Homo sapiens: one gene and its partners. The protein of the gene in region 1 interacts with the protein of each later gene in a pairwise test. Each region holds a gene or a part of one and is shown on either strand. Other genes may lie near its edges.

What was found.
Region 2: the proteins of PLEKHB2 (region 1) and PSMD14 interact in a two-hybrid assay, tested with the Homo sapiens proteins (one large-scale study listed by IntAct).
Region 3: the proteins of PLEKHB2 (region 1) and FAM168A interact in binary tests that used the Homo sapiens proteins (3 or more experiments, as listed by UniProt).

What each region holds. Positions count from the first base shown.
Region 1 is NC_000002.12:131,132,743-131,136,397, reverse strand, and holds part of PLEKHB2 (pleckstrin homology domain-containing family B member 2), read right to left. Parts: intron 3,497-3,655; coding exon 3,407-3,496; coding exon of another isoform or gene 3,383-3,406; intron 1-3,382. UniProt on the Homo sapiens protein: Involved in retrograde transport of recycling endosomes.
Region 2 is NC_000002.12:161,391,792-161,395,446, forward strand, and holds part of PSMD14 (26S proteasome non-ATPase regulatory subunit 14), read left to right. Parts: intron 1-3,286; coding exon 3,287-3,412; intron 3,413-3,655. UniProt on the Homo sapiens protein: Component of the 26S proteasome, a multiprotein complex involved in the ATP-dependent degradation of ubiquitinated proteins.
Region 3 is NC_000011.10:73,413,011-73,416,665, forward strand, and holds part of FAM168A (protein FAM168A), read right to left. Parts: intron 1-3,655.

The DNA of each region.
Region 1 (3,655 bases):
TCTCTACAACAAAAAAAAAAAATTTTTTTGCAGCCATGGTGGCTCAGGAGGCTGAGGCAAGAGGATTGCCTCAGCCCAGGAATTCCAGGCTGAAGTGAGCTAATGATAGTACCACTGCACTCCATCCTGGGCAAGAGAGTGAGACCTCATCTCTCAGGGGGTCAGGGGAGAGAGGAGAGGAGAGGAGGAGAGGGGACGGGCGGGGGAAAGGAGAGAGGGAGGGAGGGAGGGAGGGAGGAGGCAGGAAGACAGGCAGGCAAGCAACTGACAACCAGTCATGATAAACACTCCTGGAAACTAGAAAAAGGGAATTTCTAAACCTGATAAAGAATAAATATAAAAAACCTCCAGCTAACAGCATACTTAATGAATGCATTAAATACTAAATATATGCATATGTAAAACTAAATACTGAATTCAGTACTAATTAAATACTGAATTAAACAGTACATTCATAATAAATGAATGCATACTTAAAACTGAATACACTGGCCGGGCGCGGTGGCTCACGCCTGTATTCCTAGCACTCTGGTAGGCCAAGGTGGGTGGATCACAAGGTCAGGAGATCGAGACCATCCTGGCTAACATGGTGAAACCCCGTCTCTACTAAAAATAAAAAAAATAAAAAAATTAGCCGGGCATGGTGGCAGGTGCCTGTAGTCACAACTACTAGAGAGGCTGAGGCAGAATGGTGTGAACCCGGGAGGCGGAGCTTGCAGTGAGCCGAGATCTCGCCACTGCACTCCAGAGCCTGGGTGACAGAGCGAGACTCCATCTCAAAAAAAAACACTGAATACATCCCCCCTAAAATCAGGAACAAGGCAAGGATGTCTTCTCTCACTACTGCTATTCTACATAATATTTGAAGGTCTAACCAAGGCAACAAGGCAAGGTAAGGAAACAGAAGGCATAAAGGTTACAAAGAAAACAGATTCCTATTTGTAGATGACATGATTGCCTATGTAGTATATCCCAAAGAATCTACAGAAAAAGGAAATAGAGTAAGTGAGCTTAGAAAGTTTACAGGCGCCGACCAGGCACCATGGCTCATGCCTGTAATCCCAGCACTTTGAAGGCCAAGGCAGGTGGATCACCTGTGGTCAGGAGTTTGAAACTAGCCTGGCCATCATGGTGAAACCCCATCTCTACTAAAAATACAAAAAATTAGTGTGGTGGCACGTGCCTGTAATCCCGGCTACTCAGGAGGCTGAGGCAGGAGAATCGCTTGAACCCAGGAGGCGGAGGGTGCAGTCAGCCAAGATCGCGCCACTGCACTCCAGCCTGGGCAATAAGAGAGACACTCTGTCTCAAAAAAAAAAGAGAAAGTTTACAAGCTGCAAGATCAACCTACAAAAATCAATTCTATTTCTCTATACTGGCAGTAAACAAAGGAAACTAAAACTAAAAATGTAATACCATATGCAATCACTAAAAAAACTGAAACACTTATAAATCTAACAAAACATGTATGGGATTTTTATACTGAAAACCTCAAAATGCTGATGAAAAAAATCAAAGAGGATCTAAATACACATGCAGTCCATGTTTATAACTGGAAGATTCAACATTCAATAAAGATGTCATTACTCTCCAAATAAATATGACACAGGTTTAAGGCAATTCCTGCAAAAGCCTTGCAAGATTTCATTGTAGATATAAACAAATTTATTCTAATGTATATGGAAAGCTAATGGAACCAGAATAGCTAAAACATTTCCAAAAAGGAACAAAGAGGGTGTTGATCAGTCCACCCAGTTCCAAGACTTTTTATAATAGCTGCAATAATTAAGACTGTGTGGGATCAAAGGAAGGTAACAATACAGAACAATGGAGCAGACCACAGACCTCAGAAAGAGATACACTCAACAGAGCCCTGAAAAAGACATCTATCTTATAAAAAATTAATTCAAAATTAATACAGAATAATTATAAAACCTCACTATAAAACTTTCAGAAAATAATGTAGGAGAAAATCTTAGGAAACTTGGGCTAGGTTTGTCATGTTAAGTTTTAACCTGACAGCAAAAGCACAACCGAGAAAAGGAAAAGCCAATAAATCAGCTCATGCCTGTAATCCTAGCTCTTTGGGAAGCTGAGGCAGGAGAACCGCTTGAACCCGGGAGGTGGAGGTTGTGGTGAGCCGAGATCGTGCCACTGCACTCCAGTATAGGCAACAAAAGCGAAACTCCATCTCAAAAGGGCCGGGTGCAGTGGCTGACACCTGTAATCCCAGCACTTTGGGAGGCCGAGGTGGGCGGATCATGAGGTCAGGAGATTGAGACCATCCTGGCTAACACAGTGAAACCCCGTCTCTACTAAAAATACAAAAAATTAGCCGGGCGTGGTGGCGGGCGCCTGTAGTCCCAGCTACTCGGGAGGCTGAGGCAGGAGAATGCCGAGAACCCAGGAGGCGGAGCTTTTAGTGAGCCGAGATCGAGCCACTGCACTCCAGCCTGGGCGATAGAGCAAGACTCCATCCCAAAAAAAAAAAAAAAACCACTCAGCAATAAAAAGGATTATTGACAAAGAGCAACTTGGACAGATCTCAAGGGCAAATACTGAGTGAAAAACGTTAAACTCCCAAGACCACGTGCTATATGATTTCATTTATATGACATTGTTGAAATGATAAAACTATAGAGCTGGAGAACAGTTCAGTGATTGACAGGGTTTAGGGAAGCAGAGGGATGGCATGACTATTAAAGGGTGTCACAGCAGGAAGATTTTGTGAAGAATTCTTTATCTTGATTGAGGTGGTAGCTACACAATCTACACGTATGAGAAAATGACACAGGATTACTCTTAAATACCACACCAATTCCAAATTCCTGGGTTTAATTTGATCGAATATTAACAAATGGGGAAAACACATAAAAAGCACATGAGACTCTCAAAGCTATCTTTGCAACTTCTTGTGAATCTATAATTATTTCAAAATTCAATTTTTTTAAAAGCTGCGTGTTCCACACAACAGACTTACATACGTTCCACTAGCTCAGTCAGCACCCCAACAAGAGGACATCCCAATGTATTTGACATGATTTTTTAAGGTTATTTTCCCTAAAATATAGCATTTTTTTCTGACTATAAGGAGAATTCAAATAATTCATTCCATATAAACTACAGATCATCAAAATCTCATTACCCAAGGCAACTATCATTAACATGATGCATTTTTAGATCTATCTTAAAAACGTGTTACACATTAATACAGCACATTATAATGTGCTGAACTATATAAAATAGTTGCTTCATTTCATGAAAACAAACGTTGATAAGAAATCATCTGTTTTAAGAAGAAAAGGTTTAGAGTACATTTCTAATTTCATTTAAAAAAACAAAACAAAGCAGGACAGCAGCAGAGACCCCAAACTTCCCTCACCTGGAGGCTCAGGGTTCTCCCTACCTCAGGGGCCGGTGCAGCATAGGCCGTGTATGGTGGAGGTGAGGAAACCACGGATGTCTCATCGGTCATGACTGCAGAGCCCACATACGCCTGCGGGAGACAGGAGAGGGTGAGGACAGGACAGCTTCCCAGCAGCTGTGTGCTCGATGCTGTGCATTGTCCCTTTTATTTAGCAAATTAAAAATTTAAAAAAACAAAAAGATACATAGCTCTCTGCAAAACAGGAAAAACTCCCCCAGTCCAGTGGGG
Region 2 (3,655 bases), about 30 Mb from region 1:
TCTTGCTTTGTTGCTCAGGTTGGGCTTGAACTCCTGTGCTCAAGTGATCCTCTCACCTCAGCCTTCTAAAGTGCTGCAATCATTAGCATGAGCCATTGCACCCAGCCTAGTGCTTTTAGAAAACATACCATGTTTACTCTAAAGAAAACTAAGCTGAGTCAAAGGGAAACAGTTTTAGGGTTTTCAGATAATTTGTACTAGATTCTGATCCCATTTTATACCAGTTTTCAAGTTTGATTAGTTTTTAACATTACCTGACGTTTTGATGAATTAGCATTCTCATTTGTTTCTATTTTAGGATTATTTCTAGTACAGTTTTTCTCTCAACTAATGCCAAGTATTTAAATCTGCCTGTTGTTTTTTGATATTACAATCTGAACCAGTTTCCCCCCTTTACTATTACAATTAGTCATCCACCTAATTAGTTTCTTGTATTTCTCTCTGGGAAAGTTAAAAGCATTTTTTAAAAGAACACTGAGTTTACTGTTGATTGATAGCCAGTAAGTTTTGGTTAGTGAGACCGCTGTCAAGTCAGAAAGTGATAAGTAATCAGTAGCAAATAAGATCATTCTATCTAGCCCAAACTGTTTCTCACCAAGGTGTCTTAGAAGGGGATTCTGGTACATGGCAAGTGGCAGATGGAGTGAGTTGGGCTCTCCACGCTTACCCCCTCTTTCAACCAGATCACATCCATTTTTAATCTAATCTATATGCTGGGGGGGAGGATGTGCAATATAAGATTTTCCTTGAAATAAGAATTCTAATTTTGTTTTTTTAAGTTTGATAAACTAGAGTTTTAAAAGGTCAAATCCACTCATAAACTCATCTGAAGGGCCCAGTGCTTGAGCATGTGATGAGTGAGGGGAGTGGGGGACCACTTCCCCCTTGGCGCAAGGGGATCTTATAATGCTCTCTTCTAATTGCCTGCCTGTGTACCACAGTTTACTTCTGCTGTGATAGATTTAGTTGATTAAGTGTATTTTTAACACTTATTTTTAAGTTTACATGGAATGAGTACAGTCTGTGAAAAATGGCACCATTCAGGGACAAACAAAATTCATTCAGAATATAAATATTTTATCAGACTGATATCTGACACCCATCTATTTGGAAATGTCTAGCTAATTACATCAATTTTTCTTTCTTTTTTTTTGGGGAGTATCTCATAAACTTAGCCATTTTCCTTGGCATAAAAAGCAAATATATAAGCACTTACATAAATTACTTAATGTTATGTTTATGTTCTTAATAGCTCAGTTTAGCTGTTAACCTGCCTTCTTGGTAACAAAAGCTCTGCCTTTACTCTTATCCAGACAACTTGTTTACTTAACCCCCAGCCTTACTCGAGGGTCGCAAGGGAATCCTTGTCCAGGTATGATAGGAATATCCTGTTGCTCCTTGGGAACTGTCTTTGTTTGCTTTTGAAGTGGTAGGGAAATCTGAGTCTCAACACTTAATTATAGGTAGCTGTATAGCATAGGTAGTTGTAGCAGCACCCACATTTCCCAAACATGTATTTTCTAGAACAGTATCAGTGGAGAAGCTAGGAAGGAATCAGAGAAACTGAAATCATCTGTGGAGGGTTTTCCTAATTTTTTTTGGCATACTGTCCTTACCCCTGGAGCCATGGGAGAAAATGGGAGAATTAGTGTCCTTGGAGCCAAAGGAAGGGAATGGAGGAGTTTTGTATCTTCAAAAGCCTTATAGGTGATTTTGACAGGCAGCTTATTTTCCAATGTAAGATAAAATTTGTACCACAAATAGCTGTAAACTTCTAAGCAAGTAGGATAATTTTTCTAAACTAAACCCCCATATACCTCCAAGTACATCTTCAGATTCTTATGGCTCAGGGATCTCATTTAAAGTATAATGGTTCTATTGACGAAACAACAGTCATTTTATAGCCATCATTTTTTTTCTTTTACTTTTCACAATTTTGTGAATCATCCAAAGGGAAAAAACTTCTTATTTAATGATGGTCCTCAATTGAAGAAAATTTGTAGGGTAGGACTTTAAGAAAAACCGTCTTAAAATATAAACTTGAAAACTTAGGAACATCTAAGAATAAGTACTCAGAATTGTAAGTCCAATTTGAGAAACATTGAACTAAGGTGTTTAGTTTCATGATCACTGATATAGAATCCAACCCCAATTTGCTGGTGTGATTGCACACTAGATAATTTTTTTTTTTTTTTTTTTTTTGGAGTCTCACTCTGTCACCCAGGCTGGAGTGTAGTGGCGTGACCTCAGCTCACTGCAACCTCCGTCTCCCGGGGTCCAAGTGATTCTTCTGCCTCAGCCTCCCAAGTAGCTGAGATTACAGGCGTCTGCCACCACACCCAGCTAATTTTTGTGTTTTTAGTAGCGACAGGCTTTCACCATTTTAACCAGGCTGGTCTCGAATTCCTGACCTCAACTGATTCACCCTCCTTGGCCTCCCAAAGTGCTGGGATTACAGGCATGAGCCACTGTGCCCGGCCTAGATAAATCTTTTATTTGAGAATAAAAGATTTTCATGGCTTTTCATCCTGACAATAAGGAAGTTTTAAGTTTTTAAATTATAGATGGAATACCAGAATTTGAAGGAAACTTTGAGATTACCTAATACAAGCCCCTTAATTCATAGATCTCTAAACTGAGGATCAGAAAGATTGACACAAGGTCACTCAATAAATGGGGCATTTATCTCGTTATCTTGGCATTTGAAAGCTAGGCTATATGAAAAATTAGAGATACTTATAAATTTCATTAATTCATTCATTCATCAGATATTTATTGAGCTATTATTAGATATTGTTCTAGAATTTAGACCCTAGTGATCTTGAAATGAATAGGGCAAAGTCCCTGCCTTCTTGATTTCCCTTTAGTGGGAGAGAAATGCAGTAAACAAGTAAACAAAAATTTCAGGTCTTTGTAAGCATTATACAAGTAATACAGCAGGTTAAGGGAAGAAAGATTTTGTTTAAGGTAGTGTAGTGTGACTATTTTAGGTATATTGTTGTTAGGGAAGACATCTATCTGTAAGGAAGAGAGGAAGGTAAGTTATGCAAAGATGAGAATAGCCTTCTAGGTAGAAGGACAGCAAATGCAAAGGCCTTGGTGTTGGAGTACTCCTTAAGTTATATTAATACAAATATAGGAGCATTCTAATTGGAGTTCATTTGAATTAATAAAGTTAAATCCATTAAGTCGAAATGTTTTTTTTTTTTTGAAGTTTTTTTTCTCTAGACAATGAAGGGGGTATCCTCAAGGCAGAAAAAGAATTACTTTTTCTTTTATTTTTTAGATGTTGCTAAATTTGCATAAGAAGAGTTGGATGGAAGGTTTGACACTTCAGGACTACAGTGAACATTGTAAACACAATGAATCAGTGGTAAAAGAGATGTTGGAATTAGCCAAGAATTACAATAAGGTAAAAGTTACTTCTGCCATTTCTTCTTTATAATCTTTGGAATATGTATGATTAGATGCCAAGCATTGTGTAAGTAATTAAAAATAGAGAATCCTGTTTTGTAAATAAAATAGTAAATATTTGCTTTGCAGTTCATCTGGTCTGCAACTACTCACCCTTGCCTTTGTAATGCAAAGGCAGCCATACACAATATGTAAAAGAATGAATGTGTTTGGGATCTATTAAAACAAGCAGCTAGCCAGA
Region 3 (3,655 bases), on another chromosome or scaffold:
AATCAGGTGGCTAAGAATGAAGATCTCTTCCTAAACAAAAATTCCATGGTTCTAAAGATCCTGGGTCTCTTCTACCTTAACCCCAAGTAAAAGCAAACTACCACATGGTCACAAATCTTTCTCAGTCCACATCACACCTCTTTGGCTTAGCACCCCCCTGCCCCTGATGACTCAGGAGGATAGGAGAGCTGCTGCACAGCTGCCACAAAAGTCAGCCTGTTCCTGGATTCACGTCATTTATTTTTTCACCTGCAGATCCATAGTTTTTTCCATAGTTTTGTGATCAAATATGCTTGGGAAATAAGTAACAATGAGGATAGAATGGAAAGTACATATGAAAGAGAGGGAAGCATGTTAAAGAGAAGTAGAAACTAACTGGAAGTGCAACTATGAGCTGAGTGAGAAGTCTAGAGCAGATTTCTCAAAGTTTCTAGATTATGGAGCTAATGATGAAATGTGGTCATAGGAGGAGAAGCAGATACTGTGGGGGAAGACAGGGAGACTAGCTTTGCAGATGTCTAGAAGGAACCATCTGATGTGTACGGAGACACAATTTACTTATCTATAAAATAAAGGGGTTTTATAGATAAACCAGAGATAGACATTTCCCAAATGTGGACAACGTACTATAGATCCCAAGGGATCTTAATAGTTGTTTTTGCCAAAGAAAAGGAAACAAAAGAGTTCTATAGTCCCATATGTAAAATAGAGATAAACAGTTAAGATTTTGTTTTTATTCCATGACCCTGAGAAGTTTTTAAAACAATAGGATGGGCTGGATGTGATGGCTCTCACCTATAATCCCAGCACTTTGGGAGGCCAAGGCAGGAGAAGCACTTGAGACCAGGAGTTTAACACCAGCCTGGGTAACACAGACAGACTACATCTCTAAAAAAAGAAAAAAACTTAGCCAGGCATGGTGGCTGGTGTAGTCCCCAGCTACTTGGGAGGCTGAGGCATGAGGATGGCTTGAGCCCAGGAGTCTAAGGCTGTTGTGAGCCATGATCACAACACTGTACTTCAGCCTGGGTGACAGAGCAGGACCCTGTCTCTTAAAGAAGGTGGGGAGGTGAACTGTGAATCTCTAAGATGGGAGTATGTACAAGACTGTATTTTCCAAATTAATTTTACCACAGAATCTTTTATTCATACTATAAACATTTAAAACAATTAAATTTCAGCCATGTTTTTTGTAATTGAAGCTAGTTTTGGTAAACAAAGTTATATTGTAACACATCCACATCCATTCATTTACATATTGACTAAGGCTACTTTCCTGCTACAATGGTAGTCACTGACAGAGAGCATATGGCCTTTTTAAAAGCCTAAATATTTGGCCCTTTACAGGAATGTTTGCTGACCCCTAATTTAAAGGAATATATCAAGGTGTAGAGAAACCTAGCAGAGCTGAAAGCATCCCTTTTCTATGCAGGAGAGTAGGACACCCCTGAATCAGAAGGTGCCTGTTTCTGAAAGCTCTGTAGCACAGAGCCATGGTTATGAGCAGTCTGGAGACAGACTGACTGCCTGGGTCCAAACCCCCAGCTCTGAGACTTAATAGCTATAGGATACATCAGTCTCGCGTGTGATATGGGAACAGTAATGGTACCTACTTCATTGTGATAAATACATTAACTGTTAAGTAAAAAGCACTTAGAACAGTACCTGACATATTAGAAGCACTTTATAAAGATCAGCTATTATTATTTTCTCTCTCACTTTATAGGGACAGTAAGCTTCTGTCCTAAGGGTATGCAGGCAGAGCCTGGTCTGAGAGACTAAAGCTAATCTATGACTACTATGGTCTGTCCCAGCTTGGAACACAGACTCCAGGATTCTAAGATTCTAAAATGTTATGGCTTAAAATGCCATGATTTTATGATTCTTTAAAGTTAACAGGCCAAAGATGCTGATGACTTTCCTTTATGCTCCTGGAGAATGTGCTCTGGAATTTTTCTCTTCCCTGGGGAAGCTGGATTACCCACTGTATGCCACAAGGACAGCCATATTACAAAGTGGTGAGACTATCCCTCTGAGGAAAATCAAAAAGCTCCAAGAGACTGCAGTAGAATTTGGTTCCCACATCTAAGAATAACCTTGTCTGAGAATGTTTCCCTTTCTTCATGTTATGAAATGAGACACACACATACTCAGAATACAAATCAGTAGCCAAAACACCCTTGGCAGCCAAAGAGATGATGCTGCAGAAGAAGGCCTTGCTTGTTTGTCCAGACAGTCTGAGATAGAAGCAGAACTGCAGAGCTAGAAGACTCAGAGATCATTAAGACCAACGTAAACATTTCACAGATGAGATAATGAGTAGTTGCTGAAAGAGAGAGCTGTTTGTGGGGATCTAAGACTCAGTGCTACTTCCTCTAACCACAGTGGTTCTCAAGGTTACCATTTGTCAGGAGGATCTTCATGAGGCTGGAGAAACTGCCTGGGGGCCCTCATCCTAGGTTCTGTCAGTAAGTCAGGTCAATTCCTCTCAGGGAATATCCTCATTTGGACTAGACAGTATCAGAGAACTTCTCTAGTGCTGACATTCTAGGTCTCTGAGTATTTCAGAAGACTTTCATGAGGAAATCATTTCAGAGGACTTTCCATAATTTACTAGTGGTCCTGTCAATACTCTTGAGGAACACTGAAAATTCCCCTGGAGCTATAGCCTGAGCTTGGGTGACACAAAAATCAGGGTTTATTACTTTATGCATCTAAGTAAAAGAAGCTGTTGGGCTTGTTGCAAAAAAGTCTCACAGATTTTGCCCAAATGAACTTAGACTCAGTTCACTCACTGGAGGCCTGGCTATCCTGAAAGGAATTCTAAGTCTGAAGGTCACAGAATTAAGACTTTGGAATGTTGTGCCTGAAGGACATTAGAGGTTTATATTCAACCTCCTCCTTTTCCGAGAAAGAACCTGGAGCCCAGAAGGACAGATTTTCCCCAAATTGTACAGCACATCAGTACACAGCTAGGCCCAAAGTTCAGGGCTCACCCTGCCCTAGGCAGAGCTCTTGCTGAGTTAAAGTCTCTGTAGTCCAATCTTGGGCATTTAATATACTGGCCTTTGTTGTCCCCATTTCACTAAAGGCAATATCATGAAAGAAAAAATGAATTAGATCACTCGAAGTCCCAGCTCTGCCTTATAAAAGAGGCTTTGTTTATGATGTCCTATTCTTTCTCTTAGGTTCCTAACCATAATTTTAGAATCAAATGGGATAATAAAAAGAGTATGTACATTAACAAGATAAAACCTTTTCAGCGCTTTCTGCAATCCTTTTTCACTGTCATAAATCTTTTTCAGTTGTAGAAGCCCTACCACCTTCAAAGGCTTGATCCTTGCATCACGGATGCCTTTTAGACTAATTGGTTTATTGATCATCAGATTTATATGTCTGGACAAAATAAAGCTCTATGTCTGAATCTTGCTTTGACCCCTAAGACTCCTTGTTGGTAGCCAAGTGAGACAGTGATGAATCAGCAGGAGACCTAATTACAAACAGGCTTAGCAAGTATCAGTGAAATTGAACTGAATTTGTCAAAGTGCCCTGAATTTTCTGTGGTACTAGAAGCCACAAAATCTGAATGCTGGGAGGAATCTTTTTGAGTATGGGAGGGCCAGTCAACCCCAACTGCATTAAAAAATGGCACAGG